Linked DNA regions of Homo sapiens: region 2 is linked to region 1. The links come from fine-mapping of genetic effects on gene expression. A gene starts in region 1. The other region holds a variant in brackets. All regions are shown on one strand. Distances are between the middles of the regions. Region 1 holds the start of CDIPT (CDP-diacylglycerol--inositol 3-phosphatidyltransferase). Region 2 has its middle 52 kb from the start of LAT.

Region 1 (2,904 bases):
GAGTTCTCAAGAGCTAGCTTAAATTCCTTTTGCTACAAAATCAGTCCATTCTTGCTGGGCGCGGCACTTTGGGAGCAAGGCAGGAGGATCGCTTGAGGCTAGGAGCTGGGGACCAATCTGGGCGACACTGCAAGACCCAGTCTCTACAAAAATTTAAAAATTAGCCGGGTGTGGTGGCACGCTCCTGTAGTCCCAGCTAGTCAGGAGGCTGAGGTGGGAGGATTACTTGAGCCCAGAAGATGGGGGCTGCAGTGAGCCATGATCGCGCCACTGCACTCCAGCCTAAGTGACAGAGCGAGACCCTGTCTCAAAAACAAAAAAACAAAACACAAAACAAAAAGCCCCAGGCCATCCTGTTCTGCTTTTTCCAGAGATGGGAATGACAGCCCTCTGACTCTGAGGTCCCGAGGAGGCAGGGGAAGGGAGGAGGGGATTGTTGAACCCCAAGGCTGGCTGAGAGGGGTGTCTGTCACCTTGATTAAGAGCGCGAGCAGCGTGTCCATCGAAAGCGTCCAGCAGGCCGCTGAGCAGGTAGAAGGAGGAGGCCGTGAGGGGGCAGCAGGGCATGAAGTAGAAAGAAATGATGGCGAAGACAATCCGGGCATAACCTTGGAACGGGACGCGGGGAGACAGGGCAGGATCAGGGAGCCCGCCAAGGCCCCTCGCCCTCTCGTTCGGCCCGGGGCCGTGGGCAGCACTCACCGATGAGGTTGGGCACGAACAGGAAGATATTTTCGTCTGGCATCGCGGCGCCTCCCTTGCTGCCCCGGGCCTGCTCTGGAGATGCCAGTGCTGTCCCAGCCCCGCAGCGCGGCCTCAGCCTCCGGCCCGGCGCATCGGCCGCACCACCTGCGCCCTGGACCCCGCCGCCCCAACCTGGCCCCAGATGCTGAAGCCCGCAGCCGTCGGGAGCATGGACCGGCCCCGAGGTGCGCGGGACGCAGGGGGCGCGCGCAGTCCGCCCTTCCTACCCGCAACCTCCCTCGCCTCTGCCAGCCCCGCAGGCGCTCCGGGCCTCCAGCTGCGGTCGCCGCTGCTCCAGCTGCGCGTGGCTTCCGGGAACCTCCTCCTCCGCGCCCGTCGTTGCAAAATTGGAGAGAGGAAAAAGTGGCTTAAAAAAATAGTTGCGGCCCCTTTAAGGCCTGTCGGCTTCCTTTCCCTTTTCCTCCCTCCGCCCCTCTCCCTTGGCTCGTACCAAAGCGCAGAGGAGGAGAGGGAGGAAGGAACCATTAACGTCAAGCAAAGTTAGAAACGGAAAAGGAAAGGGTAAAAGAGAAGACCGAATAAAAATCTCTGCTTTCCTTTTGTGGAGGGTATGACTTCCTGGAGGCAAAGATAAGGCGATAAAATTCCTCCTCCTGAGTCTTTGCGTCCCCAAGAGGCCAGGAGATTTGGTGCAGTCCTCACTTTACTCCCCGCCCCCTAAGTCTCCAGCCGCCTTTGCTCTCGCAGGCTCTAGGCGGCTAGAGAGGCTCCAGAGCGCCCTGCAGATGGGTTGCTTTTCGCGTGCCCCTTGTGATGGGAGGATTAGGTCGCAGGCTCCACCCTACGTCATCCTCCCAAGCTTCTCAAGCGTCTGGCGCTTGGGGTCACTGCCCTCAAGGAGGCACCTGGAGGGGTACGGAGGGGAGGCTGGAGGAGCAAACGGGGCGCGCTAGGAAATTCCTCTGTCTTTAGTTCTAGAACCCCTGATCTCCTAGCAACGAGGCTGCGGAACCTCTGCAGACTCCAAGGGTTTTATAGCGTCCGGTAGCGACACGGAGCCGGCTCCCCCTTTTCCAGCCTTCCTCCCCATCTCCCATTCTCCATCCCCCACGACCTATACCAGAGGTCCTTAGGCCTCCACGTCTCTCCTTTTGCCGAGTAGCCCAAGGTTTCCACCCATCTGCCAGGTCTGGGGCGTCAAGTCGGCTGCCTCGGCTTGGGAAGGTGCTTGGGAGGGAAGAAGGAAGGAGAGGCCCACCAGGCGAAGGGGTGAGGGGTAGGGGGTTGCGGGAGTTCCCTCTCACTCCCGAAGATATAAAGCAACCTTTATTATTATTATTATTTTTTCTTGTGAGAGGGAATGAGGCAGCGGGATGTTTCCTCTAAAGGCCTTGTTTAAACCTGGGCCCGGGGAATGGTGGTGGACTGGGTTCTGGGGGAAAGCGGGCTGGTTTCTCAGGTCAACTCAGGCTTCGACTGTTCCCAGGGGGATGGCGTCCACTCCGATGGGGAATGAGGGGGAGAAGAAGAGCAGCTGGCCATCTCAAGCTGCACCCTCCTTGAGAGGAGGTCCGGTGAGCACTGCAGGGAACCCTAGAGGTGGGAATGTAATGAAGTGAAAGCCTCCCAGGCAGAGGCACCCCGTGCCAGGTCTGAGCCACGGGCCCTGAGACTCTAGCCTCAACCCTGAGTCCTGAAGCCCCGACTCATAGCTCTCAGCACTAGGCCCTGACTCTAAACCCCCACCAAACCCCCCTCCCCCAGGTCCAGAGCTTTCTAGCTAAATCTCAAGGCCCAGTCCTTCAGGAGCAAGCTCCTTGGACCCACAGGCCCCAGCCTGGGAACTCCCACAGCCAGCACTCCCATGTGGGAGCTCCCAGGCTGAACCCCTCCGGCTTTTCCTTTCCCAGGCTTCGTTATCTCGTTCTGAGGAATACCTGTCCCAGATCAGTGCAGAACTCATGGAGGAGGCTTTGTGCACTGCTTGCTGCCACTTGAACCCTGTGCCCATCAAAAAAAAGCAGTCACAAGACCAAGCGACTCAGATATCCAAACGCGGTAACCCCCTGCCTCAGGACCACCGTGTCTAGAGAACCGCTGCCCCCACTATGCCTGGTTACAGTCCCTGACCCCTCCCACCCCTAGCTGAACTCTCCAGGAGTCTGTGCCCATCTCATCCATCTCACAGCCAGCCCTAGG
Region 2 (2,904 bases), 830 kb before region 1:
CCTCAGATGGTCTTTGCATGCATGCAGCCATTGGCACTCCCATTGTACGCAAGGAAACCAGCCCAGGGTCACACAGCTGGTCAGCAGCAACACAGCTGGTCTCAAATCTAAGGTGCCTGGCCATGCCTCCATGAGGGACCGCCTGCAAGGGAGGTTGATCTTGGCTTTGGGGAGCCTTTCCTGGGCTGCACGAGTAACCTCCAATGTTCGAGGCCCCAAACTCTGCTCACATCTTCCTTTCCCTGTCTCTGCTTGGGCTATGATCACGGTGACTCTAGCAACCCTTCATGGACATTATAGTACTCTCTGCCATTCACTTTTGGTCTAATCTGACTTCAACCCCCACTTACTTGGTCTCTCCTTTTACAACCAACACAACCGAAATCCGAGGGCTTCTTTTTTTTTGAGACAGAGTCTCACTCCATTCTGTCACCCAGGCTGGAGTGCAATGGCACGATCTCGGCTCACTGCAACCTCCACCTCCCGGGTTCAAGGGATTGTCCTGCCTCAGCCTCCTGAGTAGCTGGGATTACAGGCGGGTGCCACCGTGCCTGGCTAATTTTTGTATTTTTAGTAGAGACGGGGTTTCACCATGTTGGTCAGGCTGGTCTCGAACTCCTAACCTCGTGATCCGCCGGCCTCAGCCTCCCAAAGTGCTGGGATTACAGGCGTGAGCCACCATGCCCAGCCAAATCTAGGGCTGGAACATGGCTGCAGCATATAAATAGAATTGAATTCCATAGTTTTGTTAACCCTGTTTTTTGTTTGTTTGTAGTTGTTGCTGTTTTTGAGACAGAGTCTCGCTCTGTCGCCTAGGCTGGAGTGCAGTGGTGCAATCTCGGCTCACTGCAGACTCTGCCTCCCGGGTTCAAACTATTCTCCTGCCTCAGCCTCCCAAGTAGGTGGGACTAAGGCGCCCACCACCACACCCGGCTAATTTTTGTATTTTATTAGAGACAGGGTTTCACCATATTGGCCAGGCTGGTCTGGAACTCCTGACCTTGTGATCCGCCCACCTCGGCCTCCCAAAGTGCTGGGATTACAGGCGTGAGCCACCACACCCAGCCCCTGTTTTGTTTTTGTTTTGCTTGTTTCTTAGGGTTGTTTTTCTATTTATGGTAAAGGCATTGGCTTTCCATTTGTAGCATCAATAGAATATTTCCTGTTTACAATAACCTTATGTCATAGTAAATGGTAAAGGGATTTAAAGCAGTGGTTTTCAGCTGCCAGAGGCCTGAGTGAGTTTGGGCACACTCTGTGTGATC[A/C]GGCAGAAGGCCTGTGGGAAGTTTAGCTGAGGACAGGGTCAGGAAAGGTGATGGACAGTGGGGGTCTGTCCTGGTCACCAGACCCCTGGGTCCTGCCCACCTGCTTGGAGCTCCCCACCCATCACACATGATGCTGCCAAGCCCTCTGGGTATTGTGGGCAAATACCTTAGGAGAGAAGCTGATGAACTTTGTTTCTTGAAATGCACAGATTCCTTGGACATCCCTGAGAGGTCAGTCATGAAGGTCAACTTGGTTTTCTCCCCCTCATTTGGGTTCAGAATTTAAAGTCCACACACACAGGCAGTAAGATGATATAGATAAGGACATCATCACTCGGTTTCGGATGTTAAAATGTCTAGGTGGGTTAGGGGTGATTTGAGATCACACAACCTTGTGCCACAAAGAGGAATTCCCAGGTCAGAGGGAGACATTTTATTGCCATGTTATGATCTTATCATTGAGTTGAAAGGCAATCTTGTTTCATTTTGGATTCTTTCTTATGTTTATGTCTTATAAGGGCACTTTGAATTTCCAAGCAAATAATAATTTTGAATTGGCTTTTAATCATTGACTTCTAGCACAGTTATATGATCAGAAACGTGCTGTGTGATTTGATTGCTCTCAAATATATTGAGATTTGCTGGAACAAAATAAGTCAGGTTAATTTTTGTAAATGTACCATGCATGCTTAAAATGAATGTATCTACATTTGTTCCTGAGATACAGGTTGATGGACGGATGGCTACATGGATGTGATGGAGATGGTTTACTATCAGGACCTTCCGCATCCTGCTGATGTTTTGTTGCTTAGGATATGAATGGCTGAGCGGAGGCTGTAAAACCTGGCACTCTGCTTGGGTATGAGGTTCTTCCTGCCATCCTGCCATCATTTGTTTTTTATGTTTTGTCGCCAAAAGTGACCTTGAGGAACCCTGGGAGCTCAGGAAGGAAGGAGCGCCCAGAAGCAGGGACAGGGAGCTGGTTGGGGAGGACCAGAAATCAGGTTTGTGAAGGTTCCAGAGAGGACCTGTCCTTGCGAGGAGTGTGGGAGACTGAGATGGGGGAGGGGTCATTGGAATGATGCGGGCGCTACTTGGCATTGTCCATTGTGAGGCACCACCGGGGTCATCAGGGATTGGTGGAGAGGGAGTATAAAGCCCCAGGTTTGCTAAGGGAGGGCCCAGACCGAAGAAGGTTTGGCGGATAGCAGAACCTTTTTGTCTCCCTCTGATTGCTCCTAAGCCTCACGCTCCCTTGCCCCGCGTGTCCTGTTGCTTCCCTGATCTTCTCCGTGACCTGTAGCTAAACCTTCCACCAGCGCTTGAGAACTTAATTTGAACCGGATCCTTTCCCAGACCCCTTTCTTCTTCTCCTCCTCCTCCTCCACCTCCTCCAGGTGCCCAACAGCCCCCTTCTCCTTTCCCTTCCCCTCCCCCTCCCCTTCCCCTCCCCCTCCCCTTCCCCTCCCCTTCCCCTCCCCCTCCCCTTCCCCTCCCCCTCCCCTGCCCCTCCCCAACTCAGATCCGCCCCGGTCCCCGTCCCCTTCCCTCCCCCCTGCCCTAAGCCACCTCCACCTCTGTCCTGGCCGCCTCAGGGCGCCCTGAAAGGACCAGGACATGCGGCTGCGCTTTTGGCTCC

The links. PIP is the estimated chance that this variant, and not a neighbour inherited with it, causes the effect. A credible set is the group of variants that fine-mapping cannot tell apart.
Region 2: its variant is the best candidate, but not a certain one, in a credible set for the expression of CDIPT in cerebral cortex (GTEx, PIP 0.83).

What each region holds. Positions count from the first base shown.
Region 1 is chr16:29,862,113-29,865,016 of GRCh38, forward strand. It overlaps CDIPT (CDP-diacylglycerol--inositol 3-phosphatidyltransferase), which reads right to left and starts at 1,114. Exons shown (of 6, transcript NM_006319.5): 1 at 703-1,114; 2 at 474-608. The coding sequence starts at 745. It also overlaps the pseudogene CDIPTOSP. RefSeq lists silencers at 807-1,116, 1,127-1,186 and an enhancer at 1,235-1,772.
Region 2 is chr16:29,035,773-29,038,676 of GRCh38, forward strand. It overlaps the pseudogene NPIPB10P. Among named protein-coding and RNA genes, the nearest start is that of LAT, 52 kb to the left of the region's middle. The variant A/C (reference allele first, on the strand shown) is at 1,266.